Homo sapiens: one gene and its partners. The protein of the gene in region 1 interacts with the protein of each later gene in a biochemical or structural test. Each region holds a gene or a part of one and is shown in the gene's direction. Other genes may lie near its edges. The genes, in order: GTF2F1, ABL1, TAF1, AHR, GTF2E1, ARNT and DAPK1.

Evidence for each region.
Region 2: the proteins of GTF2F1 (region 1) and ABL1 interact in far-western blotting, tested with the Homo sapiens proteins (one study listed by BioGRID).
Region 3: of the proteins of GTF2F1 (region 1) and TAF1, one has a biochemical effect on the other in vitro, tested with the Homo sapiens proteins (5 studies listed by BioGRID, with this or other methods).
Region 4: the proteins of GTF2F1 (region 1) and AHR form a complex in vitro, tested with the Homo sapiens proteins (one study listed by BioGRID).
Region 5: the proteins of GTF2F1 (region 1) and GTF2E1 form a complex in vitro, tested with the Homo sapiens proteins (3 studies listed by BioGRID).
Region 6: the proteins of GTF2F1 (region 1) and ARNT form a complex in vitro, tested with the Homo sapiens proteins (one study listed by BioGRID).
Region 7: the proteins of GTF2F1 (region 1) and DAPK1 form a complex in vitro, tested with the Homo sapiens proteins (one large-scale study listed by BioGRID and IntAct).

Annotation. Positions count from the first base shown.
Region 1 is NC_000019.10:6,382,833-6,387,485, reverse strand, and holds part of GTF2F1 (general transcription factor IIF subunit 1), read left to right. Parts: coding exon 1-97; intron 98-3,990; coding exon 3,991-4,175; intron 4,176-4,653. UniProt on the Homo sapiens protein: TFIIF is a general transcription initiation factor that binds to RNA polymerase II and helps to recruit it to the initiation complex in collaboration with TFIIB. It promotes transcription elongation.
Region 2 is NC_000009.12:130,855,021-130,859,673, forward strand, and holds part of ABL1 (tyrosine-protein kinase ABL1), read left to right. Parts: coding exon 1-76; intron 77-4,653. UniProt on the Homo sapiens protein: Non-receptor tyrosine-protein kinase that plays a role in many key processes linked to cell growth and survival such as cytoskeleton remodeling in response to extracellular stimuli, cell motility and adhesion, receptor endocytosis, autophagy, DNA damage response and apoptosis.
Region 3 is NC_000023.11:71,379,148-71,383,800, forward strand, and holds part of TAF1 (transcription initiation factor TFIID subunit 1), read left to right. Parts: intron 1-2,595; coding exon 2,596-2,772; intron 2,773-3,388; coding exon 3,389-3,516; intron 3,517-3,613; coding exon 3,614-3,721; intron 3,722-3,843; coding exon 3,844-4,017; intron 4,018-4,653. UniProt on the Homo sapiens protein: The TFIID basal transcription factor complex plays a major role in the initiation of RNA polymerase II (Pol II)-dependent transcription.
Region 4 is NC_000007.14:17,342,911-17,347,059, forward strand, and holds the end of AHR (aryl hydrocarbon receptor), read left to right. Parts: intron 1-10; coding exon 11-154; 3' UTR 155-3,237; downstream 3,238-4,149. UniProt on the Homo sapiens protein: Ligand-activated transcription factor that enables cells to adapt to changing conditions by sensing compounds from the environment, diet, microbiome and cellular metabolism, and which plays important roles in development, immunity and cancer.
Region 5 is NC_000003.12:120,780,029-120,784,007, forward strand, and holds the end of GTF2E1 (general transcription factor IIE subunit 1), read left to right. Parts: intron 1-1,014; coding exon 1,015-1,442; 3' UTR 1,443-3,041; downstream 3,042-3,979.
Region 6 is NC_000001.11:150,813,407-150,818,059, reverse strand, and holds part of ARNT (aryl hydrocarbon receptor nuclear translocator), read left to right. Parts: intron 1-29; coding exon 30-140; intron 141-626; coding exon 627-699; intron 700-857; coding exon 858-978; intron 979-1,169; coding exon 1,170-1,272; intron 1,273-1,653; coding exon 1,654-1,801; intron 1,802-3,820; coding exon 3,821-3,983; intron 3,984-4,653. UniProt on the Homo sapiens protein: Required for activity of the AHR. Upon ligand binding, AHR translocates into the nucleus, where it heterodimerizes with ARNT and induces transcription by binding to xenobiotic response elements (XRE).
Region 7 is NC_000009.12:87,706,501-87,710,287, forward strand, and holds the end of DAPK1 (death-associated protein kinase 1), read left to right. Parts: coding exon 1-864; 3' UTR 865-2,134; downstream 2,135-3,787. UniProt on the Homo sapiens protein: Calcium/calmodulin-dependent serine/threonine kinase involved in multiple cellular signaling pathways that trigger cell survival, apoptosis, and autophagy.

The DNA of each region.
Region 1 (4,653 bases):
CCTTCGAGGCCTTCCCCGTGCACAACTGGTACAATTTCACACCGCTGGCCCGGCATCGCACGCTCACTGCCGAGGAGGCCGAGGAGGAGTGGGAGAGGTGAGTGGGCTGGGTGGTGGCTGGGGACAGAAGTGAGGGAAATGGGGTGCCTTGCCATGGATATATCACCAGGCCCTGTGCTGGGAGCTGGGGACTCAGGGGTAACCAGGGCAGACCCCACTCGGCCGTCTCAGAGCTGTCAGTTCAGGAGGAAACAGATAGGAGGCCTTAGGGCCACAATGGGGCACCCCAGAGGGTGCTGCCAGAGCCAGAGTCTGTGACCCGGAGCTCAAATTGGCAGAGCAGGGTGGGGTCTAACTGCCCCCTTGGCTTTCCGCAGGCTGCAGGTCACACAGCCTGATCCACTGCAGGGCAGCAGCTCCAGGCAGGGCACCCGAGGAGGGTTTCTCTAGCAGTGACATCGGCCTCAGAGGTGGGGCGGGTGCAGTTAAGGGCTGTGGAGGGACACAGTGCATGAGGCCAGTGCAGAGTGACTGTGGGCAGGGGGACGAGGCTGGGGGCCCAGAGCACTTGGTCTTGGATGTATGGCTTTGGATGAGACCGTAGGGCCACCACCACCCTAGGGTGCTTGCAGATGGTGGGGAGGGCACTCTGGACGCATCTACAAATGGCATTTGCACAGGTCACAGATGAGCAGATGCTCAAAGAGTCGATGGCTCCCAAAGGTTAAAAAAACACCTTTTTCGGCTGGGTGTGGTGGCTCACGCCTGTAATCCCAGCACATTGGGAGGCCAAGGCAGGCGGATCACGAGGTCAGGAGATCGAGACCATCCTGGCTAACACGGTGAAACCCCGTCTCTACTAAAAATACAAAAAATTAGCCGGGCATGGTGGCGGGCGCCTGTAGTCCCAGTACTCGGGAGGCTGAGGCAGGAGAATGGCGTGAACTGGGAGGCGGAGCTTGCAGTGATCCTAGATGTTGCCAGTGCACTCCAGCCTGGGCGACAGAGCGAGACTCCGTCTCAAAACAAAACAAATAAAACACCTTTTTCCCTCTTTGGTGTTTTTTTGTTTGTTTGTTTGTTTGTGTGTTTTTTTTTGAACTGAGTTTCGCTCTTGTTGCCCAGGCTGGACTGCAGTGGCGCAATCTCAGCTCACTGCAACCTCCGACTCCTAGGTTCAAGCAATTCTCCTGCCTCAGCCTCCCAAGTAGAGAAATGGGATTACAGGCATGCACCACCACGCCTGGCTAACTTTGTATTTTTTGTAGAGACAGGGTTTCACCATGTTGGCCAGGTGGTCTCAAACTCCTAACCTCAGGTGATCTGCCCCCCTCAGCCTCCCTAAGTGTGGGGATTACATCCGTGAGCCACCACGCCCGGCCTGTTTTAGTTTTGTTGTTTTGTTTTTTTGAGACCGAATCTCGCTCTGTCACCCAGGCTGGAGTGCAGTGGCGCGATCTCAGCTCACTGCAAGCTCCGCCTCCCGGGTTCATGCCATTCTCTGGCCTCAGCCTCCTGGGTAGCTGGGACTACAGGCGCCTGCCACCATGCCCGGCTAATTTTTTTCTATTTTTTTGGTACAGATGGGGTTTCACCGTGGTCTCGATCTCCTGACCTCGTGATCTGCCTGCCTCGGCCTCCCAAAGTGCTGGGATTACAGGCGTGAGCCACCATGCCCAGCCCCTGCTTTAGTTTTTAATCATTTTCTTTGGTTTTAAAATTTCTGAAGAGTCATAGGTTGGCTCAGCTCCAAAAGCAACCCCGGTAAATGGCACGAAGTCAGAGCGTCCTCCCCACCAGGTCATGAGCCTCCGAGCCTGTGGGGCAGTTTCTGTACCCCTGCTCCCCTGGAACAACAGCCCCCAGGTCTGCCTGCCTGCTCCACTTTGGTTGAGTTCCTGGGGCTCCACTGTAAAATCAGTCGATCAATCATTGCTGGGGGGGCAGGTTCGCTTTTGCTGTATTTTCCTTAGAATCTGCTTTGTAAGTTTTAGGGAGAAGAATTTGGCATTTTATAGAATTGTGTAAAACCTGGATGTTAACCAAAGGAGAAATGCCATCTCTTTTTTTTTTTTTTTTTTTTTTTTTTTGAGACAGTCTCACTGTCACCCAGGCTGGAGTGCAGTGGTACCATCTCAGCTCACTGGCTCATTGCAACCTCGACCTCCTGGGTTTAAGCGATTCTGCCTCAGCCTTGCGAGTAGCTGGGACTACACACGTGCACCTCCCCACCTGGCTAATTTTTGTACTTTTAGTAGAGAAGGGGTTTCAGCATATTGCCCAGGCTGGTCTCCAACTCCTGGCCTCAAGTGATCTGCCCGCTTTGGCATCCCAATATGCTGGGATTACAGGTGTGAGCCATGGTGCCCGGCCAGAATGCCATCTCTTGATCAGATGTTAAATCTACTTAGCTAAGAACTGTTCAGGCTGGGCACGTGGAGAGCGGATCGCAAGGTCAAGAGTTCGAGACCAGCCTGGCCAAGAGACCAGCCTGGCCAATTTGGTGAAATGCCATCTCTACTAAAAATACAGAAATTAGCCAGGCATGGTGGCGGGCACCTGTAATCCCAGCTACTCGGGAGGCTGAGGCAGGAGAATTGCTTGAACCCGGGAGGTGGAGGTTGTGGTGAGCCGAGATCACACCATTGCACTCCAGTCTCGGTGACAGATCAAGACTCCAACTCAAAAGAAAAGAAAAGAAAAGAAAAGAACAAATGGTGATGGTGTCTCGCCATGTTGCTCAGGCTGGTCTCAAACTCCTGGGTTCAAGCGAGCCTCCAGCCTCGGCCTCCCCTCCCAAAGTGCTGGGATGACAGGCTTGAGCCACTGCACCAAACTGTCACTGTTTTTTGGTGCATGGCTCAGTGTGGTAAAGCCACTCACAGTGTTAAGCAGCAGTTTCATTATCTTTCACACCAGCCTGGGCCTTGCCCATGTTAGATGCATTCCTATTAAATGCAGTCCTTTTTTTTTTTTTGGAGACAGATTCTTACTCTGTCACCGAGGCTGGAGTGCTGTGGGGCAATCTTAGCTTACTGCAACCTCTGCCTCCTGGGTTCAATTGATTCTCCTCCCTCAGCCTCCTGAGTAGTCAGGACTACAGGCACATGCCACCACGCCCGGCTAATTTTTTAATTTTTTGTAGGGATGAGGTTTCACCATGTTGTTCAGGCTGTTCTCAAACTCCTGACCTCAGGTGATCCACTTGCCTCGGCCTCCCAAAGTGCTGGGATTACAGGCGTGAGCCACCGCGCCCAACCTGGCCTGCAGTCCTGTTTTTTAAAGCTTCCCTGAGCAATGAGACAACGTTACATTGTTCCAATGGAAACAGTATGTTTTGTCATTAAAGAAAAATACATCTATAAATTAAGATAACAAAAGATCTGGCTGGGCACGGTGGCTCACACCTGTAATCCCAGCACTTTGGGAGGCCAAGGTGGATCATGAGGTCAGGAGTTCGAGACCAGCCTGTCCAACATGGTGAAACCCTGTCTCTACTAAAAATACAAAAAAAAAAAAAAATTAGCTGGGCGTGGTGGCAGGCGCCTGGAACCCCGGCTATCTGGGAGGCTGAGTCAGGAGAATTGCTTGAAGCCAGGAGGCGGAGGTTGCAGTGAGCCGAGATCACATCACTGCACTCCAGTCTGGGCGACAGAGCGATACTCTGTCTCAGAAAATAAAAAAATAATAATAAAAAATAGCAAGAAACCAGTGTGACTGGATTGGGGCCAGACTCTGAGTCCGAGGGAGGTGCTGAGACTCCAGCAGCACATGGGGACCTGCTCTTTGAGGGACTCGGGGCAGAACGGGAAGGCAGGAAGGGCTGGCTCTATCCGTGTGGTTTCAGGGAGTCCTGTGCCACAGCCCAAGTCCCCGGGGGCCACATCACCTTGAAGGCTATGTGGGTGGTGCCCTGGGGCTCGCCCCCTGCAAGCACAGATGCAGGGTGGTGCCAGGCCCGGCATGAGCCCCCCTGTGCCTGGCCCGCAGGAGGAACAAGGTGCTGAACCACTTCAGCATCATGCAGCAGCGGCGGCTCAAGGATCAGGACCAGGACGAGGATGAGGAGGAGAAGGAGAAACGTGGCCGCAGGAAGGCGAGCGAGCTGCGCATCCACGACCTGGAGGACGACCTGGAGATGTCGTCCGATGCCAGTGATGCCAGTGGTGAGGAGGGTGAGTACGGGCGCCTGGGCATTAGGTCACAGAGGTGCCTGCTCAGGCAGTGCCAGTGAAGGCAAAGTCTACCATCGCTCACAGTGGCCCTAGAATGAGAGGCAAGTGGGGCCGGGCACAGTGGCTCACGCCTGTCATCCCAGCACTTTGAGAGGCTGAGGCAGGCAGATCACCTGAGATCAGGAGTTTGAGACCAGCCTGGCCAACACAGTGAGACCGTGTCTCTACTGAAAACACAAAAATTAGCTGGGCATGGTGGTGCATGCCTCTAGTGCCAGCTACTCGGGAGACTGAGGCAGGAGAATTGCTTGAACCCGTGAGATAGAGGTTGTGTTGAGCCGAGATCACGCCACTGGACTCCAGCCTGGGCAACAGAGAGAGACTCCGTCTCAGAGAAAAAAGAATGAGAGTCAGGCGAGGCCGCCTGGAGGAGCAGTGATGTCAGTCAGGAGGCAAGGCCAGAGCCCGGGAGAGCTGA
Region 2 (4,653 bases), on another chromosome or scaffold:
TGGCCAGAGGTCCATCTCGCTGAGATACGAAGGGAGGGTGTACCATTACAGGATCAACACTGCTTCTGATGGCAAGGTAGGGGACCCTTGGCAGGGGGCGCTGATGGGCCCAGGGCAGGGGAACCAGAGGTCCTGCTGTCGGATTGATAAATTATTGCAAGAAAGCTCAACCAAGAAGATGTTTAAAGAATCTTTCAGGTGGGAGTCATTCCATTAGCCTTATGAAGACCCTTTATTGAGGATCCGTTCTGTGATATTACAAGTTCCTGGGACTGGTATGATTCTCTTATTGTCTTGCTAGAGTTTTGTTGTTAGCAAGTTACTTAAAATAGGAGGAATATCTGTTGGGTTTTGGACACATTTTTTACAATAAGATTCTTCCTTTAAAAAAAATATTTTATAATGATAGAAATCATCCCCAACGAGAAAAATTCAAATAATAGATAACCTTTCTTAGAGCGAAAGACCACTTTACTATCCCCTCCCCCACAGACGCCTGGCACGTGGGCTTCTTCCTGCGGATGAACACATTCATGGAGAGGTGTGTGGACATACGTGCATACACGCATGCAGTTTTCAGTGAAAACCGGGATCAAACCCACAGCTTACCAAACCCAAAGTGTGGTGTTGTAAGGGAGGTGGCCTATATGATTTTGTGGTCTTCATATAAATAATCCTTAAGAGTCCATAAAGAGAAGGGAGGAGTTAACATTGACTGAGGTATTGCTATAATACCTGCATCTTTGCATTAAAGAAAGGGAGGCATAAAGAGATCTTGCCCGATGTCAACCTAGTGAGTCACTGATGGAATAGGCTTGGATCCCACAGTTTATTCTACTGCACCAGGCTGTAGTTGAGGTACAGTGTTGATAGGTGGTCCCGATGGTGTATGTTTGTTTGTTTGTTTGTTTTTGAGATGGAGTCTTGCCCTGTCACCCAGGCTGGAGTACAGTGGTGCGATCTTGGCTCACTGCAACCTCTGCTTCCCATGCTCAAGTGATCCTCCCACCTTAGCCTTCCGAGTAGTTGGGACCACAGGCGCACACCACCATGCCCAGCTGTTTTTTGTTTGTTTATTTGTTTTGAGATGGCATTTTCGCTCTCATTGCCCAAGCTGGAGTGCAATGGTGCGTTCTCGGCTTACTGCAACCTCCACCTCCCGGGTTCAAGCATTTCTCCTGCCTCAGCCTTCCAGGTAGCTGGGATTACAGGCATGCACCACCACACCCAGCTAATTTTGTATTTTTAGTAGAGACAGGGTTTCACCATGTTGGTCAGGCTGGTCTCAAACTCCTGACCTCAGGTGATCCACCTGCCTCAGCATCCCAAAGTGCTGGGATTACAGGCGTGAGCCACCACGCCTGGCCGTTTTTGTATTTCCAGTAGAGACAGGGTCTCGCCATGTCGCCCAGGCTAGTCTCAAACTATTGAGCTCAAGCAATCTGCCCTCCTCGGCCTCCCAAAATGCTGGGATTACAGGCACGAGCCACTGTGCCCAGCCTATATTTTTTAAATAGTATGTAATGCATGCATATGGTTAAAAAAAATCAAAAGAACAAAATGAATTACAGTAAAAAGTAATCGTCTCCTAATTCACTTTTCCTGCCCAGAGGCAAGCACTGGTACTAGTTCCTTCTAGAGTTACCTGGACACAGATGGATGGTATATAGATGTTTATGTGGATGTTTATATTCAAAAAGGCACGCAAATGATACATGCACGCGAATGCATCATGCTTCTCCCGTGTGATAATACACCTTCGAGATTGTTTTATGGCAACAGGTTTAGAGCTGCCTCATTCTTACCAGTGACTGTGTACCGTGGATGGACTGTCACTTATTTCAGTAGTCCCCTGCTGGTTGACTTTTAGGTTGTTTCCAATCTTTAGTTATTGTAAATAATGCTGATATGAGGTGGCTTTCAAACCTTTTCAAAAATCTGGTTCTGCTGTAAGAAAAACTCATTTTACACCACCACCCAGCCCTCACAATATAACAAAAGTTTCATGAAGTCTTACCTACCCTTACTGTATGTAACGCACTCTGATAGTTTGTATTTCATTCTGTTCTATTTCATTTTTTAAAAATTCTGGTTGTAATCCACTAAATTTATTTCATAGACTGACTAGTGGCCCATGGCCTGGTTTGAAAATGCGTTGCACGTGCTTCTTTATGTGGGTGTAAGTGTGTGCAGATAAGTTGCCAGAACTGACTGAAGGTTATGTGCATCACCAGGTCACCCTCTATAGAAATTGTACAAATTTGTTCTCCCACAAACAATCCATGAAAGGGCTTGTTTCCCCTTAACCCACACCAACAGTTTATTATTAGACATGTAAAAACACCTTTGTCACTCTGACTGGTAAAGAATGGCATCTCATTATGTTGAATATCCATGTGGCATATTTTGGGTCATCTTTATGCCATTTAGTAAATTCATCTTTTTCCTACATGTTAGAAATATACCAAGTGTATATGTGTATCTAGGCCTGTTGACCTCTCTGTTCTCTTCCATTGGTCTGTCTATCCGTATGCCAGTACCAAACTTGTAATTGCTATGGCTTCATACCATGTTGTGGTATCTGATAGGCTAGTCCCCACTTACCTTTTTAACTTTTTTTTTTTTTGGCTGTCTTCACACATTCACTTGTACCATATGAACATACATATACTTCCTTTTTAATGTTCTTATTTTTCTTCACATCCCAAAGTCTTCTGGCTGAAATCCTATTGCCCATATCTGATGCTTTCCACCACTGCAGAATTCTTTAGTACCAACACTGCAGTGTGCGTGACGGACAAAAGAGCCTGTTATCCCTGTGTGACTAGACGTGGGCCTGTCAGCTTGCTTTTTGGGTTATTGTTCTTATCCCAGAGGTGGAGCTGCGTTCTTCCATTCTGAGGGACGTACTTCAGGACATTGGGCCCTTTGAAAGAGCCTTCAGACCACAAGGGTACCTTTCTAGTGAATCAGAACACCAGGGTGCACCGCCCATGGGGGGTGATTTTCTGGAGCAGACAGCTTGCTTCCCATGTGTGCTATTTATCCAAGGCAAGTCATGCTGCACCGAGATAGTCACTTGAGGTTTGCACCGAACAGGATAATGGTTTCTTTTCCCTAGAGCTGTTTAATCAGCAACCTTGGAACAGATGCAGGCAGGCATGATCTAGTGTGACAGCTCATTAGCTAGGGGTTGATCTAAAATACTGTTCAAATGGGCAAGGAAAGGCCTGCGTATGGGATATGTGATTTGCAGAATTTGAGATTCATCCAAAGAGGGAGAATCTGCCTAAGATGCCTCTGTCTAAAAGCTAGTATGTGCCAGGTGGGTTTGTTTCATTCCAGGTAGAGCACAGGGAGCTTATGTGACCAGGCAGTGTCCACCATTGGGCAACACATCACACTTCCCTTGGCGTCTTGCCTCCTCCCTCCCCGTCTGGCACAGACTCTCCCATCAGCCGTTTGGGCACCTGGGGACTTCTGAGCCCACAGCGTCATCCAGCAGACCGTCTGCGGAGGTTCCTTCCTGTGAGGGCCGCACTCGAGGGGGTGTATTGGGTGGGATCGTATCACTGGAATGAGTGAACATCGTTAGAGGGAGCTCCCACAGCTATGCGTGTGACCGTGTGGCTCGCCGCTGAAAAATGCTGCTCACATAGCAGAACTTCGATGCAATCCTTTTTGGATTTCTAAGGGGAAATTTTAAGACCGATAGGAGGAATAGGCTGGGGTTGAATAAGTTTGGTTCTTATTTTTAAATTAGCTCATCTTTAGAAAACAACTGAATTTAGAAGATTCTTCTGTAAGGCCCCAAAGGATTTCTTTCTGCCTCCCCGCTCTTGGCTCTTATTTGTGTCTCTCCTCGTGTTCTGAGCTTTTCAGCAGCCCTTGTGGGTCATCAGCCGAGGACCATCAGCTCGGGGCCCAGAGCTGGGGACTGGGAGTTATGAGCTGGACTCTTGAAGGGGCCAATACTAAACCGAGCCGTTGCCATTTCCTAGGAGCCTTGACAGGCTCAAACATCTCTGGGTACCCGGGGATTTGACTGTCATTGTTCTGATCCTTTCCCAAAGTTGTAACCCTCTGTTGACATAGCGGAATTGAAGATTGATTTTTCTTCACCACCTTCTGCCTAAAGTTCTTAGTTCTGAATGTGTCCACACCTCATTGACTTCTATGAGATGCCCCTGTCACGTTCCTCGATTCCTTCTAGTCCTTAATAGAGTCTTTCCTTTTCTTGAAAGAAATTTGCCCAGTTGACATTTATTTTCATCGTCTGCTGAAGTGACAGATCCAAGGCCCTAAGCTTCAGCAGAGTTGCAGGAAGGGACCATTTACACAGCCTCTTAGATGTTTAAGGTTTACCCGCCCTGACAGTGGCTCAGCAGGCGTAGGCCTCCTGGTGAAAAGCCGAGCACATGGCTAACCTGCTCTGGTGGAGGGGCTTTGGACCGTTCTTGTGTACTGCGAGGCTTGCCTTCCTGCTGGTGTGTGAGCAGCTCTCGGGGGAACTTGCTTCCTGGCTGAGCAACCTGTAAACAGTATGTCTGAGGTGGGACTCCCGGGCCCAAAGCAGCCAAAGGTTGCACAAGTCTAAGCTCCGTTAGGCCTGTCAGTGTGGCTGTCAAAAGAAACGCTGTTTCTTTTCTTTCT
Region 3 (4,653 bases), on another chromosome or scaffold:
TCTTGTTGCCCAGGATGGAGTGCAATGGTGCAGTCTCGGCTCACTGCAACCTCCGCCTCCCCAGTTCAAGCGGTTCTTCTGCCTCAGCCTCTGGAGTGGCTAGGATTACAGGCGTGCACCACGATGTCTGACTAATTTTTGTATTTTTAGTAGAGATGGGGTTTCTCCATGTTGGTCAGGCAGGTCTCGAACTCCCGACCTCAGGTGATCACCCGCCTCAGCCTCCCAAAGTGCTGGGATTACAGGTGTGAGCCACCACGCCCGGCTGGCTGTGATGTTCTGAGCTGCCAAGAGATAGTGAAATTTTTAGGATCTGAGGCCTAATTCTAGTCCCTGTAATTTTTATTTTATTTTTATGCTCAACCTGGAGGAAGATAGTCCATGTAATTTTTTGCCCTGTTAAGAAGCTAGGCCAGACTCAGGTTTCTTAAAAACATGTGATAAAGATCTTTTTTTTTTTTTTTTTTTTGAGACGGAGTCTTGCTTGCTCTGTTGCCTGGGCCGGAGTGTAGTGGCGCAATCTCAGCTCACTGCAATCTCTCCCTCCTGGGCTCAGGCGATTCTCCTGCCTCAGCCTCCCGGGTAGCTGGGATTACAGGCATGCGCCACCATGCCCATCTAATTTTGTATTTTTAGTAGCGATGGGGTTTCTCCATGTTGGTCAGGCTGGTCTCGAACTCCCGACCTTAGGTGATCTACCTGCCTCAGCCTCCCAAAGTGCTGGGATTACAGGCATGAGCCACCACGCCTGGCCTGAAGTTAAAGATCTTTCTGAACTATAACAGTACTTTATAGTATATTTTTGTTCCCAAGTCCCTTTGTATTTAGAATTCTAGTTTCCTATTTTTCTCCTTAAATAGGTTTTTTTTTTTAAGGTATGCCATGATTAATGTAAAAAACTTTGAAAATACAGTATAGTGTTAAAGTCACTGGTAATCTATCTGGAGATTATCAACTGTTAAGTTTTGGTGTATTTTCAGTGTTCTGTGTGTGTATGTAGTTGAGCTCATTTCCGTATGTACAGTTTTGCATACTGTGCTTTTCACTTACTAAATATTTTTCTCTCTTTCATTTTTTATTTTTCATTGTTGAGACAGGGCCTCACTTTGTTGCCCAGACTGGTTTCAAACTCCTAGACTCAAGTGATCTTCCTGCCTCGGTCTCCCAAAGTGCTGAGATTACAAGCAAGAGCCACCCCACCCAGCCACATAAATATTTTTGTGTCATTTAGAGTTCTTTATAAAAATGTTTAATGACATGGGAAACTCGTTCATTTTATTTTAATTAAATTATTATTTTTTGTAGAGGTAGAGTCTTGCTATTGTTGGTCAGGCTGGACTCCTGGGCTCAGGTGATCCTCCTGCCTCAGCCTCCCGAGTAGCCAAGACTTCAGGGGCATGCCACCACGTCTGGCTTGAGAAACTCATTTTAAATGGAAATAAAGAAGATATGAAACAACATATATGATATCCTATTAGTGTAAATGAAAAAAAGCAGACTATATAAACATAGAAAGCTGGATTACTTTTATATTTTGGAGGAAAAACAAAATTTTTTCTTTTTTGAGACAAGAGTCTCTGTCGCCCAGGGTGGAATGTGTTGGCGCGATCTTGGCTCACTGCAACATCTGCCTCCCAGGTTGAAGTGATTCTTGTGCTTCAGCCTCCCGAGTAGCTGGGATTATAGGCGTGCACCGCTGTGCCCAGCTAATTTTTGTATTTTTAGTAGAGACGGGGTTTCACCAGGTTGGCCAGGCTGGTCTTGAACTCCTGACCTCAAGTGATCTGCCTGCCTTGGTCTCCCAAAATGCTGGGATTACAGGCGTGAGCCACCACACCCGGATACAAAAATGTCTGATTTTTAAAACCTAAGAAATAGGTTTTTTCCCTTCCATTCTGCCCACTTTATGGGTTATATATTACTATTACGAATGTTTCATAATTTACCGATAACATGTTGCATTTGTTAATACAATTTATTACCATTTATTGTTAGCATACTTTACCATATCATTTATTGTCATAATTTAACCAATTCCTTCTTAAACATTTAGGCTATTTAAATTTCAACTATTATAAACAGTATTGCAGTGGACATTTTTGACTGCAACATTATTTTTATTTATTTATTTTTTGAGACAGAATTTCACTCTTGTTGCCCAGGTTGGAGTGCAATGGCACGATCTCAGCTCACTGCAATCTCTGCCTCCTGGGCTCAGGTGATTCTCCTGCCTCAGCCTCCTGAGTAGCTGGGATTACAGGCATGTGCCACCACACCCAGCTAATTTTTGTATTTTTTGTAAAGATGGGGCTTCTCAATGTTGGTCAGGTTGGTCTTGAACTCCTGACCTGAAGTGATCCACCTGCCTCGGCCTCCCAAAATGCTGTGATTACAGGTGTGAGCCACCGTGCTGAGCCTGCAACATTATTTTAAAGTGAGAAATACACTGTGTAGGTTCCTTTTCAGTGGACACATGAATAACTCCACTAACTCGCTCTACTAACATGAGTAACTCTTTTTATCTTTGCCAGAATCTTGATTGAAAGGGGCATAAATGTTTTCTCTGTTACTATTTCCTCCTTGCACTTTGACTAGGTTTTGCAGCCACTCTTGATGATGACAAACCTTGGTACTCCATTTTTCCCATTGACAATGAGGATCTGGTATATGGACGCTGGGAGGACAATATCATTTGGGATGCTCAGGCCATGCCCCGGCTGTTGGAACCTCCTGTTTTGACACTTGATCCCAATGATGAGAACCTCATTTTGGGTATATTACTGGCAGAGGCCAGTGTTTCTTCTCCTTTGAAAACTTGCTGTTAATGTCAACGGGCAGGAGGAAATCAGAAGGGTTGGAGATGATTAGGACTAGAAACCTGTAGGTAGCGGCTTGAGAGAGCGAAGTTTTGGCTGTTAGTTTATATTATTTGTGTATATGCTTAGGGAACACTCACGTAGGAATGTTGGAAAGTTGCAACTTTGAGATGTCAAGAGCATAGTTTGTTCCGTTAGTGAATCATGGACTCGAAACTTCTAGGTAGCAGTTTGAGAGAGCAAAATTGTGGCAGTTAGTTTTTATTATTTGTGTATTCCCTAGGGAAAACTCATGTAGGACTGTCGGAAAGTAGTACCTTTGAGATGTCAAGCGTGTAGTTCACTTAGTGAATCATGTACTAGAAGTGATTTGGGATGGGATGAAAAGATACAGGTGTAGTTCAGTTAGTAAATCGTGGACTAGAAGTTACCTGGGGGGGGGTGGGATGAAAGGTCTAGTTAAGACCTTCACTGGAACATCCGTCACCTTAAAGAAGAAAACTGGATACTTGTCTGTAGGAAAGGTGAATCTTCAGGGAGAGCAACTCAAGTGATTTTTGTTTTATTCTCAGAAATTCCTGATGAGAAGGAAGAGGCCACCTCTAACTCCCCCTCCAAGGAGAGTAAGAAGGAATCATCTCTGAAGAAGAGTCGAATTCTCTTAGGGAAAACAGGAGTCATCAAGGAGGAACCACAGCAGGTGTGTGAAGAAAAAAGGGGCTTGGTGTTTAGAAGAACAAAGAAAGGTAATAGAGAAGGATAGTCTGACCGAGATTTGTTTGATTATCTATCATTAGAACATGTCTCAGCCAGAAGTGAAAGATCCATGGAATCTCTCCAATGATGAGTATTATTATCCCAAGCAACAGGGTCTTCGAGGCACCTTTGGAGGGAATATTATCCAGGTACAAATAGTGTCTTTTCTGTGATAGAGGAGAACCCCATGGCTTTGTTCTGACGGAGGATATGGGAAAATCTTGCTTAGGATGGAATTAGCTAATTTTAACCCTTCTATTTCCTGTTTTAGCATTCAATTCCTGCTGTGGAATTACGGCAGCCCTTCTTTCCCACCCACATGGGGCCCATCAAACTCCGGCAGTTCCATCGCCCACCTCTGAAAAAGTACTCATTTGGTGCACTTTCTCAGCCAGGTCCCCACTCAGTCCAACCTTTGCTAAAGCACATCAAAAAAAAGGCCAAGGTATAATTGAATTCTGGTTAGAAAACAGCTATAAAGGATATTGGGGTATAAATTAAGGGAATGTACCAGGTATTAGATTGTATTAGGGAATTGGTTATTTTCTCAGATGTGATAGAATGTTATTTTGGTTATTTAGGAGAATGTCTTTATTGTTAGGTGATGCATGTGAAAATATTTAAAGGTGAGGTGTCAGAATGACTGCATCTTTCAAAAACTGTCCAGCAAAGTCTATAGAAAGATAAAAGTTTAAAAAAATGGCGAAATATAAACAGCGACGTGGGATAATAAGTGTTCATAGTACAGTCGTCCTTCGTTATCTCTGGGAGATTGGTTCTAGGACCTTCTCTGGATACCAAAATCTTTAGATGTTCCAGTTTCTGATAAAATAGCATAATATTTGCACATAACCTATGCACATCCTCTCCTATAGTTTAAATCACCTCTAGATTACTTATAATACCTACTCCAATGTAAATGCTATGTGAATAGTTGTTAACACTGTTATTGGTTAGGGAATAATGACAAGAAAAGTCTGTACCTGTTCAGCACAGATGCACTTGTATTTTCTGAATATTTTCTATCTATGGTTGGTTGAAATCACGGATGCAGAACCCATACATGGATATGGAGGGCCGA
Region 4 (4,149 bases), on another chromosome or scaffold:
TTGTTTTCAGTTTCAGAATGGAGTTTTAAATGAAACATATCCAGCTGAATTAAATAACATAAATAACACTCAGACTACCACACATCTTCAGCCACTTCATCATCCGTCAGAAGCCAGACCTTTTCCTGATTTGACATCCAGTGGATTCCTGTAATTCCAAGCCCAATTTTGACCCTGGTTTTTGGATTAAATTAGTTTGTGAAGGATTATGGAAAAATAAAACTGTCACTGTTGGACGTCAGCAAGTTCACATGGAGGCATTGATGCATGCTATTCACAATTATTCCAAACCAAATTTTAATTTTTGCTTTTAGAAAAGGGAGTTTAAAAATGGTATCAAAATTACATATACTACAGTCAAGATAGAAAGGGTGCTGCCACGGAGTGGTGAGGTACCGTCTACATTTCACATTATTCTGGGCACCACAAAATATACAAAACTTTATCAGGGAAACTAAGATTCTTTTAAATTAGAAAATATTCTCTATTTGAATTATTTCTGTCACAGTAAAAATAAAATACTTTGAGTTTTGAGCTACTGGATTCTTATTAGTTCCCCAAATACAAAGTTAGAGAACTAAACTAGTTTTTCCTATCATGTTAACCTCTGCTTTTATCTCAGATGTTAAAATAAATGGTTTGGTGCTTTTTATAAAAAGATAATCTCAGTGCTTTCCTCCTTCACTGTTTCATCTAAGTGCCTCACATTTTTTTCTACCTATAACACTCTAGGATGTATATTTTATATAAAGTATTCTTTTTCTTTTTTAAATTAATATCTTTCTGCACACAAATATTATTTGTGTTTCCTAAATCCAACCATTTTCATTAATTCAGGCATATTTTAACTCCACTGCTTACCTACTTTCTTCAGGTAAAGGGCAAATAATGATCGAAAAAATAATTATTTATTACATAATTTAGTTGTTTCTAGACTATAAATGTTGCTATGTGCCTTATGTTGAAAAAATTTAAAAGTAAAATGTCTTTCCAAATTATTTCTTAATTATTATAAAAATATTAAGACAATAGCACTTAAATTCCTCAACAGTGTTTTCAGAAGAAATAAATATACCACTCTTTACCTTTATTGATATCTCCATGATGATAGTTGAATGTTGCAATGTGAAAAATCTGCTGTTAACTGCAACCTTGTTTATTAAATTGCAAGAAGCTTTATTTCTAGCTTTTTAATTAAGCAAAGCACCCATTTCAATGTGTATAAATTGTCTTTAAAAACTGTTTTAGACCTATAATCCTTGATAATATATTGTGTTGACTTTATAAATTTCGCTTCTTAGAACAGTGGAAACTATGTGTTTTTCTCATATTTGAGGAGTGTTAAGATTGCAGATAGCAAGGTTTGGTGCAAAGTATTGTAATGAGTGAATTGAATGGTGCATTGTATAGATATAATGAACAAAATTATTTGTAAGATATTTGCAGTTTTTCATTTTAAAAAGTCCATACCTTATATATGCACTTAATTTGTTGGGGCTTTACATACTTTATCAATGTGTCTTTCTAAGAAATCAAGTAATGAATCCAACTGCTTAAAGTTGGTATTAATAAAAAGACAACCACATAGTTCGTTTACCTTCAAACTTTAGGTTTTTTTAATGATATACTGATCTTCATTACCAATAGGCAAATTAATCACCCTACCAACTTTACTGTCCTAACATGGTTTAAAAGAAAAAATGACACCATCTTTTATTCTTTTTTTTTTTTTTTTTTGAGAGAGAGTCTTACTCTGCCGCCCAAACTGGAGTGCAGTGGCACAATCTTGGCTCACTGCAACCTCTACCTCCTGGGTTCAAGTGATTCTCTTGCCTCAGCCTCCCGAGTTGCTGGGATTACAGGCATGTGCCACCATGCCCAGCTAATTTTTGTATTTTTAGTAGAAACGGGTTTCACCATGTTGGCCAGACTGGTCTCAAACTCCTGACCTCAGGTGAGCCTCCCACCTTGGCCTCCCAAAGTGCTGGGATTACAGGCGTGAGCCACTGCATTCAGCTCTTCTTTTCTTTAGATATGAGAGCTGAAGAGCTTAGACACATTTTGCATGTATTATTTGAAAATCTGATGGAATCCCAAACTGAGATGTATTAAAATACAATTTTTGGCCGGGTGCAGTGGCTCACGCCTGTAATCCCAGCACTTGGGGAGGGCGAGGAGGGTGGATCACGAGGTCAAGAGATGGAGACCATCCTGACCAACATGGTGAAACCCTGTCTCTACTAAAAATACAGAAATTAGCTGGGCATGGTGGCGTGAGCCTGTAGTCCTAGCTACTCAGGAGGCTGAGGCAGGAGAATAGCCTGAACCTGGGAATCGGAGGTTGCAGAGCCAAGATCGCCCCACTGCACTCCAGCCTGGCAATAGACCGAGACTCCGTCTCCAAAAAAAAAAAAAATACAATTTTTATTTCTTTTACTTTTTTTAGTAAGTTAATGTATATAAAAATGGCTTCGGACAAAATATCTCTGAGTTCTGTGTATTTTCAGTCAAAACTTTAAACCTGTAGAATCAATTTAAGTGTTGGAAAAAATTTGTCTGAAACATTTCATAATTTGTTTCCAGCATGAGGTATCTAAGGATTTAGACCAGAGGTCTAGATTAATACTCTATTTTTACATTTAAACCTTTTATTATAAGTCTTACATAAACCATTTTTGTTACTCTCTTCCACATGTTACTGGATAAATTGTTTAGTGGAAAATAGGCTTTTTAATCATGAATATGATGACAATCAGTTATACAGTTATAAAATTAAAAGTTTGAAAAGCAATATTGTATATTTTTATCTATATAAAATAACTAAAATGTATCTAAGAATAATAAAATCACGTTAAACCAAATACACGTTTGTCTGTATTGTTAAGTGCCAAACAAAGGATACTTAGTGCACTGCTACATTGTGGGATTTATTTCTAGATGATGTGCACATCTAAGGATATGGATGTGTCTAATTTAGTCTTTTCCTGTACCAGGTTTTTCTTACAATACCTGAAGACTTACCAGTATTCTAGTGTATTATGAAGCTTTCAACATTACTATGCACAAACTAGTGTTTTTCGATGTTACTAAATTTTAGGTAAATGCTTTCATGGCTTTTTTCTTCAAAATGTTACTGCTTACATATATCATGCATAGATTTTTGCTTAAAGTATGATTTATAATATCCTCATTATCAAAGTTGTATACAATAATATATAATAAAATAACAAATATGAATAATATGTTTTAATGTAAATTCTTTCTGGTCCACGTAAAGGAAATTATTTATTCTGTAGTATTATAACTATGTTAGATGAGGGCAATCTACAATACTTAGGGATATGTTAAGTCAGTAATTCATAAACTTCTTATACAATTTTGCCCCCCAATGTCTGACCTTTATCTGGATATAAAAAACACTCTCAGTAGCTTCATAAATTAAAATGCTTCTGAAATGAACTTTTTTAAAGCCCTGTGTTATCAGTGTAGTAGTGTGTCTTAGATTAAAATCCAAAATCCTATTTTAATATTTTAAGAATATTTCTGAAGAAATTCGAAATAACCCTTGTTAGCTGTATTTTGTGCTTAGTTTAGAAAAACCATTGCCCAAACTTAGTATTTCTGTTTAATAAGTATAAATGATACAGAAGCCTTTGGCCTTAAATTCATAACTGTTGAACATTCATGGAAAACCCTGCAATTAGAATTGATTGAAGAAGAATTCCTGAGAAAATGTTTTCATTCTTGTGACAGTTATTTTTCTATTAGTTTTATATTTGTTCTTTACAATTAGGCATTTTTCTCAACTAGCATATCATAAGTTAGCATCATACTTAATTCTGAACATTTTAGACTAATCCTGAGTCTTTAAGAATTACATAAAATATTTAGTTTTAACTATTTGATCTGAAAAAAATCAAGTAAAAATCCTGATAACCTGAGTGCATCTCTGCTTGCGCTTAGGTGATTTCTGTCACCATGAATGACTCTAGCTTGTCCAATTTCACCAGCTCTACCAAACACCGACCCAGGGATGTTGGCCACTGACAGGGCTGGATGACATCTCTCATTTCTTTCACTGTCTGCAGATGACCTTGCTTCCGTTTTTACTAATAAAATCAAGGATATCATCCTAAGTTTGTACCTTCA
Region 5 (3,979 bases), on another chromosome or scaffold:
GTGAGAGAAGCTTCATTCCTAAAATTAGATTCTTTTTTTATAAAGAGTTTTAAGTATGCTTAGTTTGCTTCATGAAAATAAAACTCACATTTATTCACTCATTTGTCAGATGTTTATTCAGTGCCTAACAGAGTGGCAGGTACTATTTAGGTAAATGGGATATATCCATGAATAAACAAGATAAATATCTGTTGTGGTAGAACCTACATCCTTGGAAAGGGGGTGACAAAGACAATAGATGTAAGTTATTCATTATGTTAGGAAATAAGTGCTATGGGGGAAAAATAGAGCATTGGGAATGTAGGGATAGGATACATTTAAAAGGTAACATTTGAATAAAGACATGAAAGATGGAAGGGAGTTAGCTGTGTGAGTACCTAAAGGAAAAATATTCCAGGCAGAGGGAACAGGTAATGCAAAGGCCCTGAGGTAGGAGTGTGTCTGATATGTACAAGGAATACCATGGAGGCTACTGTGGCTAGACAAGAATGAGCAGGGGAAAGAAGTAAGAGGTAGATGATCAGGAAGGATTCCAGATGATGTGGGACCCTATAGGCCATTGCAAAGCTTTTGGCTTTTACCTTGAGTGAGATAAAGAGCCATGTTTTGATTTTCTGTTATGCCAGCTACTCTAGTCGATTCTTCATAGACATTATCTTATATGTTTTTATTCAGAACCTTAGAAAGTAGATGCTTTTATCACCTCATTTTACAGAAAAAGGTATTGAAGTTTAGAGATTAAATAACTTGCCCAAGATGCTTGTGTGTAGAAGAACCAGGATTCAAATCTATGCTATAATACTCTTAAAGCCAATGTACTTGACCATTATGCTACTTAAGCTCCAGTTTGTAAGAAATATTTTGAATATTTTATGGATAGCAGCTCAAAAATGGAACCAGTGAAGTCTGTTATTTTATCGTATTATTTAAATATATGTTAAAATATTGTCTATATGCTATAAAGAAATGCCATTTATATTTAAGGATATTGACTTTCTGAGTTTTACTCCCCAGGGGGCATAGATATGGACGCATTTCAGGAGCGTGAGGAAGGCCATGCTGGGCCTGATGACAACGAAGAGGTCATGCGAGCACTGCTCATTCACGAGAAAAAGACTTCCTCTGCCATGGCTGGTTCAGTGGGGGCAGCTGCTCCAGTGACCGCTGCCAATGGCAGTGACTCAGAAAGCGAGACCAGTGAGTCAGATGATGATTCTCCACCCCGTCCGGCAGCTGTGGCTGTGCATAAACGAGAAGAGGATGAAGAGGAAGATGACGAGTTTGAAGAAGTAGCAGATGACCCCATTGTCATGGTGGCTGGCCGTCCGTTCTCCTACAGTGAAGTGAGCCAACGGCCAGAGCTAGTGGCCCAGATGACACCAGAAGAAAAGGAAGCATATATAGCAATGGGACAACGCATGTTTGAGGACCTCTTTGAGTGAGCTTTCCCTAATTCTTTCTCCTTTCTCTAATGCTCAGTTCAAAAAGGAATGTCTCATCTTTGAAGAAAAGTATTTAAGTGGCTTTCTGCCCCTCTTGATGTAAGCAACTGTCCATCCTTGTGCAAAGATTGATGGTAGAGAGTTTGACTTTTATGCCAGAAACTTTCCCAGCAAGGTAGGGTGCTGAGAATCCTACCCTTCCTTGCTGTCACTACAGTATTAATATTTTACTGTATTTTCTTTTCTTTTTTTTTTTTTTTTGGAGATGAAGTCTCACTCTTGTACCCCAGGCTGGAGTGCAATGGCGTGATCTCGGCTCACTGCAACCTCTGCCTCCTGGGTTCAAGCGATTCTCCTGCCTCAGCCTCCCGAGTAGCTGGGATTACAGGTGCCTGCCACCATGCCTGGCTAATTTTTGTATTTTTAGTAGAGGCAGGGTTTCACCATGTTAGCCAGGATGATCTCGATCTCCTGACCTCATGATCCACCCGCCTCGGCCTCCCAAAGTGCTGTATTTTCTTATCTGATTTTTTTCTTGCCTTATTAAGACATAATTTTCTCCCTTCTGAAATGAGTGAGGGAAGTTCATAAGGTAAATCCTTCCCATCCATCTGTTTACTACAATAGGTTACAATAATTCACTGATCACATCCATTTTATCTGTTCTAGCCAGGCATTCCAAACAATTTCTTATACTGCTGCCCACCAAAGCAGCTTGCCAACAGTCAAATCACTGATTGGGGGAAAAAATCCTGAAATTTTGCTTAGAATTTGAGCATTTCCTCAAAATTGAGATGGATCAATATGTAAGGGGAGGTGGGAGCGTGTGTGGAAGGGGGAGAGATATACTTGAGTCTTATGATTAATGTCTAAACCAGAATTTGTGTCTTTAGAACTGACCAGACTGGTAGATTTTATTGTATTGCTTAATGTCTTTTGGTTTGGATTTAGGATGATAGAAAACAGAAGTATAATTGGTAAACCCTTAGGAAGAAATTAGAAAAACATGGACGTAAGACAAGAAGTCTCTGTGAAGGGTTGAAGAGTGACAAGCATTGGTAACAGTGCCTTAGAACTGTGTCAGTTAGTCTGATTTGGAAATCCTTTATGTAAAGCTGAGACTGGTCCTGGTTTTGTTCCCTTTGGGTACAGACCTCTTGTCAGTGCTATAAATTGTTTAATGAGGCCATTCCAGCAGAAATCAACAGAATAATTGATTACTCTTCTCTCTCTCTGTCACTCTCCCTCTTTCTAAACATCATTGAAGGCTGTCTCTCTTTTAATTTTTGTCAGACACAGTATTTTAGGGTGCATCCAGTATACCATTGAGCATTGTAACCTCAGGAAACAGTTTATTTTGGGTTCTGATATGTAGCATGGTATTTTCCCTAAGGCAGAACTTTAAAAATAAAGAACTTTCACACAAGGGTCTGTAACAATTGTATATCTTACAATATTTTTCCTTGCATTGTAATTTTTAAGTATTTATCATTTTATAGTACACATGTAAAGAATATATGAGCCTTGTATGGAGTGATGTTTCATTTACCTGGGTTGTGTTAATGACTGAATGTTGACAATAAATCTGTTTTATACTGACTGAAGTTTGTTCATTTTAAGTTCTGTAACATCTTGGGGCATATTAAAATGAATATTCTTCCCATTAAAAAAATGTTAAAGACTTTTTTATTAGTCATATTTCAAATGATAGATGCATATGGGATCTAAACTTTTTGTGCAATAAGATGCCTTTGTACCTTGTATACGTAAAGTATTCAACTTTTACACTTGATCTTAGCCAAAAGACCAAGAAGCAATGCTCTTCAGCTTTTAAACATTGTTTTTTAAACTTTTATAGTTCTAGAAGTTAATTTAAATAAAATGGTAATCAGATGTTAATTTTTAAAATGTAGTTAATTTTTTAAACTATTTTTTGTAAGTGTGTTCATGTATATGTAGAATTCGTGTTATGGGAAAATGTCACAAGTGAATATGGAGGTAAGAATAAAGGTATTCATTGCAGCAGTATTTGAAATAGAATAGAAAGATAGATATACTCACTAAATCTGTATTTAGTCCTAAGTACTCAGGAGGCCAAGGCAGGAAGATTGTTTGAGCCAGGAGTTCAAGGCTAGCCTGGGTAATGTAATGAGATCCCATCCCTCCCCAAAAAAGAATGTATTGAGAGGAAAAGATATCCATAATGTGTTAAATATAGGATTCAGTTTTTCTAGGGGTGTGTGTGTGTGAAGAAGAAAGTAGCTAACATATAGTGAACTGTGTGCCAGACACTATTTTAAGTGCTTTATATATGTTAACTCATTCAATCTTTTATAATCTGTGAGGTAGGTATACATATATAAATGTATATATATAAATTAGGGATGAGAATTACAGTGATCTTAATATATTATTATGAAAAAGATATTTTCATTTTGAAAAAGAATCAAACACATTTAATGAAAGAAATAGTAGAGTGTCAAAAGCAAGGTCTTTTTAGGTTGATGCTAGGATTTTTGGGTGAGTAGACCCTCAGT
Region 6 (4,653 bases), on another chromosome or scaffold:
CCTCTTTACTGTCTACTCTGGTTTCCTAGGAACTCTAGCCAAGAACCACGGCCTACACTCTCCAACACAATCCAGAGGCCACAACTAGGTCCCACAGCTAATTTACCCCTGGAGATGGGCTCAGGACAGCTGGCACCCAGGTAAAAAAGGGTGAAATAATCATCTGTTGAGCAGTCACCCAGGGGGTGGTCATTTGCAATCCCATATATTTTTTGTTCGGTTGGTTAATTTTTTTTTTTTTTTTTTGAGAAGGAGTTTTGCTCTCATTGCTCAGGCTGGATGGAATACAATGGCACGATCTAGGCTCACTGTGACCTCTGTCTCCTGGGTTCAAGTGATTCACCTGCCTCAGCCTCCCAAATAGCTGGGATTACAGGTGCCTGCCACCACCCCCGGCTAATTTTTTGTATTTTTAGTAGAGACGGGGTTTTGCCATGTTGGCCAGGCTGGTGTCGAACTCCTGACCTCAGGTGATCCACCTGCTTCGGCCTCCCAAAGTGTTGGGATTACAGGCATGAGCCACCATGCCCGGCCTGTTTAATTTGTTTTAAGGTTCTTTCTCCAGATTCTTTTTTAAAAAAAATTTTTTTTTCTATTTGTCTTGTCAACTGGCCTTTGACATATAGGCAGCAGCAACAGCAAACAGAATTGGACATGGTACCAGGAAGAGATGGACTGGCCAGCTACAATCATTCCCAGGTGAGTTGTGTCCTCTTCGTTGAAGAGGGTAGGGAGTATTTACTTAGGAAGTGTTCTCCGGTACTAGTTAGAATGTACATATGTTGTATATGAATTTTAGGGTTATTGAATTGTCATGTTAAATCTTTAATGGTTATTTTTATCATTGTATTCCACAGGTGGTTCAGCCTGTGACAACCACAGGACCAGAACACAGCAAGCCCCTTGAGAAGTCAGATGGTTTATTTGCCCAGGATAGAGATCCAAGATTTTCAGAAATCTATCACAACATCAATGCGGGTATGTTTCTTTCTCATTATCCTTTTAAATTCTCATTTAGATCACTTACTGATGGGCATGCCACTGCCCAGTCAGTAATCTTCCAGTGTTTTTCCACTTAATCATAATACCACCTGAGTAAATAGGAACTTGCTGAACTAATATACTACAGCCCCTTGACTGGCCCTTCCCCAACTCCTTTTGGTCCACAGATCAGAGTAAAGGCATCTCCTCCAGCACTGTCCCTGCCACCCAACAGCTATTCTCCCAGGGCAACACATTCCCTCCTACCCCCCGGCCGGCAGAGAATTTCAGGTGAGCCCCGTATATATGTGCTGCTTTACAGGGCCCTGAGGGATTCAGCTGCTGAATCCAAATTTTATTCTTCCCTTGCTTTCTCTGGTTACTTCAGAAAAAGCAGTGAAGCTTGTAGGGCCTAGCGTGAGGCAAACAAGCTGCTTTTCTTCCTCCTATTTCTTTGCACCTGTCCTATTGCCATGTTCTAGGCTCCATCTCTGTGTGTCCTGGTCAGTGTGTGACTGTCAGTCTTTCTTGTCTTTTCCAAATTGTTATCAAATTTTCCTTAACCTGCAGGAAGTCAAGGGGATCTAGGGATAGCACTAGATTGTCCTTTGATTCCTAGCTTCTGTGATAAATCTATCCTTTTAATCTTTTACCTCATTTATTCACTCCTAGGAATAGTGGCCTAGCCCCTCCTGTAACCATTGTCCAGCCATCAGCTTCTGCAGGACAGATGTTGGCCCAGATTTCCCGCCACTCCAACCCCACCCAAGGAGCAACCCCAACTTGGACCCCTACTACCCGCTCAGGCTTTTCTGCCCAGGTAAAACTTATCATCTGTGTGTTCCCTGTGTATTATTTTTTGTTTGTTTGGGCTTTTTTCCGTATGTAAAATCAGTGTTTTCTATTTTAAATACCTTCTCCCCAACCCCTGTTCTCCGGTTTCCAATTTCCATCTTTGTTGAGAGTAGCTAATTAAAAATCACAGATAATAAAAAAAAATCTCAGTAGAGTCTGTGGTTTTCACCTTAAATCAGAATTGCTCACTTGGAACGTTTTGAGCACGTCTGATTTTCAGATTTGTTTTGGAGTAAATTCTAAGATGTTTCCTCTTTGTTTAGGACTCCATAAGGCAGGAGCAAAGGAGAAAATTAATGACTAACTTACAGTGATGTCTGTTTACAAAAAAGTTGAAAAATTCTTTTTTTTTTTTTTTTTGAGACAGAGTCTTGCTCTGTCGCCCAGGCTAGAGTGCAGTGGTGCGATCTTGGCTCACTGCAAGCTCTGCCTCCCGGGTTCACGCCATTCTCCTGCCTCAGCCTTCCAAGTAGCTGGGACTTGTACAGGCGCCCGCCACTGCGCCTAATTTTTTTTTTTTGTATTTTTAGTAGAGATGGGGTTTCACCATGTTAGCCAGGATGGTCTCAACCTCCTGACCTTGTGATCCGCCCACCTCAGCCTCCCAAAGTGCTGGGATTACAGGCGTGAGCCACCGCGCCTGGCTGAAAAATTCTTTTTTTTTTTTTTTCTTGAGACAGACTGTCACTTTGTTGCCCAGGCTCTGGAGTGCAGTGGCGCGATCTCGGCTCACTGCAAGCTCCGCTTCCTGGGTTCATGCCATTCTCCTGCCTCAGCCTCCCGAGTAGCTGGGACTACAGGGTGCTCGCCACCACGCCTGGCTAATTTTTTGTATTTTTAGTAGAGACGGCATTTCACCGTGTTAGCCAAGATGGTCTTGATCTCTTGACCTCGTGATCCGCCCTCCTCGGCCTCCCAAAGTGCTGGGATTACAGGCATGAGCCACCGCATCCAGCCGAAAAATTCTTTTATAATATTCATATATATAATATAACGCACAATAAATACACTGTCTAAAGAAAGATTCTTTAATATTACTATATATTTATGTTATACAAGTAATAGTTTTAAAAAGTCAAAACCAAAAGCAGGTTCCAGAATGTTATATGCAATACGATCTCAATTGTGTACAAAATGCATGAGAAAATAGAAACTGGAAGAAATTATCCAAACATGTTAACCATGGAATTATGAATGATTCTTATTTTCTTTATATTTTCCTTCACTTTCTGAATATTCTATAATGCATATACAGAACTCTCATGAGAAAATAGTTTTTATAAAAAATACATCATTAGGAACAAATGAATGCAGAACAGACAGAATAATGGTGCAGAGTAGTTTTTCTCTGCATATGGTACTTTTTTTGTTGTTTGTTTTTTTGAGACAGAGTCTCGCTGTTGCCCAGGCTAGAGTGCAGTGGCGCGATCTTGGCTCACTGCAACCTCTGTCTCCCGGGTTCAAGTGATTCTCCTGCCTCAGCCTCCTGGGTTGCTGGGATTACAGGCACGTGCCACCATGCCCAGCTAATTTTTGTATTTTTAGTAGAGACGGGGATTTCACCATGTTGGCCCGGCTGGTCTGGAACTCCTCACCTCAGGTGGTCTGCCTGCCTTGGCCTCCCAAAGTGCTGGGATTATAGGCATGAGCCATGAGCCACCCCGCCTGGCCTGCATATAATACTTTACTGTTATGAATGCCTCTAGTTTTATATAACTTCACAGTTTATAAGATGCTTTCATTTAATTCTTACAATTTTTATTAATCCCATAGTTCATTGCTTTTTTGTAATTTTATCTCAGCTGCCTAAAAAATAGTGTCAAGAGAGATTGAGAGTTAATTGGAAGAAATATACAATAGGAAATAAGTGATGAGCTTGGTTCAGAAGGATGCAGTGATTGACAGTGTTGACTCTCATAGGCATGGTATGTGCAATGATGTTAATGCTGTATTTGTTCTATATCCCCTCTCCATCTCTCTTTAGCAGGTGGCTACCCAGGCTACTGCTAAGACTCGTACTTCCCAGTTTGGTGTGGGCAGCTTTCAGACTCCATCCTCCTTCAGCTCCATGTCCCTCCCTGGTGCCCCAACTGCATCGCCTGGTGCTGCTGCCTACCCTAGTCTCACCAATCGTGGATCTAACTTTGGTGAGTCCAGACCATAAGGAGAGTAACAGGAAAATCGCACCACTAAAGAGAAAGGATTTGGTAGTTAAAGTTGTTTGCCTGTGTTGTGGGTACACTGACCTGATTGTAGGGAAATGCAAGGTGACAATCTATTTAGAATTTAAAACCTACCAGCTGGGTGCGGTGGCTCACGCCTGTAATACCAGCACTTTGGGAGGCTGAGGCAGGCGGATCACTTGAGGTTGGGAGTTCAACCCCAGCCTGACCAACATGGAGAAACCCTGTCTCTACCGGGTGTGGTACCGCATGCCTGTAATTCCAGCTACTCGGGCGGCTGAGGCAGGAGAATCGCTTGAACCCAGGAGGCAGAGGTTGCGGTGAGCTGAGATCGCGCCTTTGCACTCCAGCCTGGGCAACAAGAGTGAAACTCCGTCTCAAAAAAATAAAAAATAAAAAAAAAAAACTACCCACATGAAAAATACTTTAGCACATATAACAAAAATCATGTGAATTTTTATACATTTAATAGTATGCACATTTAACCTAAATGAGTAAAGAACTCTATGGAAAGGCTGCCTGGAGAAGAAGAATTAATTTAGGGCTGAGTTTTGAGATAGAAAAGGCATTGATTGGCAGAGAGAAGGACAGAGTTATCCTAGGTAAAATTAATGGCTTACCTATAGTTGTTTAC
Region 7 (3,787 bases), on another chromosome or scaffold:
ATCTTTCACAAGGTCCAGGTGAACCTGTGCCGGTGGATCCACCAGCAAAGCACAGAGGGCGACGCGGACATCCGCCTGTGGGTGAATGGCTGCAAGCTGGCCAACCGTGGGGCCGAGCTGCTGGTGCTGCTGGTCAACCACGGCCAGGGCATTGAGGTCCAGGTCCGCGGCCTGGAGACGGAGAAGATCAAGTGCTGCCTGCTGCTGGACTCGGTGTGCAGCACCATTGAGAACGTCATGGCCACCACGCTGCCAGGGCTCCTGACCGTGAAGCATTACCTGAGCCCCCAGCAGCTGCGGGAGCACCATGAGCCCGTCATGATCTACCAGCCACGGGACTTCTTCCGGGCACAGACTCTGAAGGAAACCTCACTGACCAACACCATGGGGGGGTACAAGGAAAGCTTCAGCAGCATCATGTGCTTCGGGTGTCACGACGTCTACTCACAGGCCAGCCTCGGCATGGACATCCATGCATCAGACCTGAACCTCCTCACTCGGAGGAAACTGAGTCGCCTGCTGGACCCGCCCGACCCCCTGGGGAAGGACTGGTGCCTTCTCGCCATGAACTTAGGCCTCCCTGACCTCGTGGCAAAGTACAACACCAGTAACGGGGCTCCCAAGGATTTCCTCCCCAGCCCCCTCCACGCCCTGCTGCGGGAATGGACCACCTACCCTGAGAGCACAGTGGGCACCCTCATGTCCAAACTGAGGGAGCTGGGTCGCCGGGATGCCGCAGACTTTTTGCTGAAGGCATCCTCTGTGTTCAAAATCAACCTGGATGGCAATGGCCAGGAGGCCTATGCCTCGAGCTGCAACAGCGGCACCTCTTACAATTCCATTAGCTCTGTTGTATCCCGGTGAGGGCAGCCTCTGGCTTGGGCAGGGTCTGTTTGGACTGCAGAAGCAAGGGGGTGATGTAGCCCATCCTTCCCTTTGGAGATGCTGAGGGTGTTTCTTCCTGCACCCACAGCCAGGGGGATGCCACTCCTCCCTCCGGCTTGACCTGTTTCTCTGCCGCTACCTCCCTCCCCGTCTCATTCCGTTGTCTGTGGATGGTCATTGCAGTTTAAGAGCAGAACAGATCTTTTACTTTGGCCGCTTGAAAAGCTAGTGTACCTCCTCTCAGTGTTTTGGACTCCATCTCTCATCCTCCAGTACCTTGCTTCTTACTGATAATTTTGCTGGAATTCCTAACTTTTCAATGACATTTTTTTTAACTACTATATTGATTGTCCTTTAAAAAAGAAAAGTGCATATTTATCCAAAATGTGTATTTCTTATACGCTTTTCTTTGTTATACCATTTCCTCAGCTTATCTCTTTTATATTTGTAGGAGAAACTCCCATGTATGGAATCCCACTGTATGATTTATAAACAGACAATATGTGAGTGCCTTTTGCAGAAGAGGGTGTGTTTGAAATCATCGGAGTCAGCCAGGAGCTGTCACCAAGGAAACGCTACCTCTCTGTCCCTTGCTGTATGCTGATCATCGCCAGAGGTGCTTCACCCTGAGTTTTGTTTTGTATTGTTTTCTGACAGTTTTTCTGTTTTGTTTGGCAAGGAAAGGGGAGAAGGGAATCCTCCTCCAGGGTGATTTTATGATCAGTGTTGTTGCTCTAGGAAGACATTTTTCCGTTTGCTTTTGTTCCAATGTCAATGTGAACGTCCACATGAAACCTACACACTGTCATGCTTCATCATTCCCTCTCATCTCAGGTAGAAGGTTGACACAGTTGTAGGGTTACAGAGACCTATGTAAGAATTCAGAAGACCCCTGACTCATCATTTGTGGCAGTCCCTTATAATTGGTGCATAGCAGATGGTTTCCACATTTAGATCCTGGTTTCATAACTTCCTGTACTTGAAGTCTAAAAGCAGAAAATAAAGGAAGCAAGTTTTCTTCCATGATTTTAAATTGTGATCGAGTTTTAAATTGATAGGAGGGAACATGTCCTAATTCTTCTGTCCTGAGAAGCATGTAATGTTAATGTTATATCATATGTATATATATATATGCACTATGTATATACATATATATTAATACTGGTATTTTTACTTAATCTATAAAATGTCGTTAAAAAGTTGTTTGTTTTTTTCTTTTTTTATAAATAAACTGTTGCTCGTTGCATTAGTTTTTTTGATCTTTAATTCAAAAGGATTTCTTTTTACTTGTTGTGGTTTTACTGTTGTCACCCCACATAGCAGGACAACCCAGTCCAAAACCTAGAAAATCATTACACCTCAACTCTCAGGGTTATTGAGATGCCGATTATTACTCAAATTAGGAATGGTGTGGGAAAGTGAAAAGAGTTCAGATAATTTTCACATTTCTTCCCATTGTAAATAAAACAGGCCCCTTAGATTTTTCTCGGGTGAACCAAAAAACCAAACTGACTCTTTTAGTTTTGGCAACAGGGAACAGAGGAAGCTTTGCGACTTCTACACAAAAATGATGGGGATGGCACCAGGAGGAAGAGAAAACCTACAGCAAAAAGACCTTCGTGCCTTTCTTACATTTATAGTTCATTTATGTTTCAAGCAAGTTGTCCACAATAAACATGATTAACTTTCATAATGAGAAAAGAAGTCCTGATGAATAAAATTAAAACTAGACATAGGTGTGTCTACAAAGGATGAGACTGAAAGGGAAACTGTGGTCGCCTTAAGGAGCGGAAACTCCTTTTCTTGTCTCAGCTCCTTCCTGAGTGTTGGCTTCACTCTCTCCTGCTTCAAAAGACTGCTTCCTATAGCGGCAGGTAAGCTAAAAACCAGAGAGAAGGGGTTTGTCTCTTGCAGCATCTATATGTAAAATCCCAGAGTGGGACTCTGATTCGATTAGCTTGTGTCACATAGCTATCCCTGTGCAAATTTGGAAAAGACAGAGTTACTAGGATTGGCCTCATCACCCAATGAGCTGTTGGGGGAGAAGCAGTTCTCCCCAAGACTAGGGTTCTGTTAGTAGAAGAAAGGTGAGGGAGGATGCTGGGGAGACACATTTGAGTTACTGCAAAAGTCTTAATACTTTTTTTGAGAGAGAGGGCTTGGCTTCTGTGACCCAGGCTGTGGTGCGGTGGCATGATCATAGCTCACTGTTGCTTCAAAGTCCAGAGCTCCAGCAGTCCTTCCAACTCAACCTCCTGAGTAGCTAGGCCTGCAAGGGCACACCACCGTGCCTGGCTAATTTTTTTTTTTTTTTTTTAAGGAGATGATCTCACTATGTTGCCCAGGCTGGTCTCAAACTTCTGGCCTCAAGTCATCCTCCCACCTCTGCCTCCTGAAGTGAGAGGATTACAGGCATGAGCCACAATACCCAGCCAGTGCTTTTGTTTTATGCAAGTCCTAGGACAGGCACCTGTTCATATGATTGTGGGGTCCCCGGGCTCCTGAAATGTTGGGACCACAGTCAGGAATCATTGCAACCCAAAGGTCAAGAGCTTAAGGATCACTCAACTCACTGCCCCATCTTGGGAAATGCCCTGGGGCACTCTTCAGGGGGCAGTTTGGAGTCTGTACCAGGAGCTTCTGTACCAGGAGCTCTGGTCAGGCTGAAACTGGCCACTGCCCACTGTATGCAGCTGGCTCTCTCCCCTGCAGGTGGGAGGAAACAAGACCATAGCTTACCTCCTGTGTCCATAGTGAGAATCAAAAGGTGCAAATTCTAGGAGTCAGAAAGAAAAGCCAATCATGGGACCCTGTCTCTTAGAGTTGCTGTGAAATGCACTCAGTTGCCATGTTCCTCGTCACCTCTTTACTATAGTGTAACAGCCTCTGGGTACCACGTCCA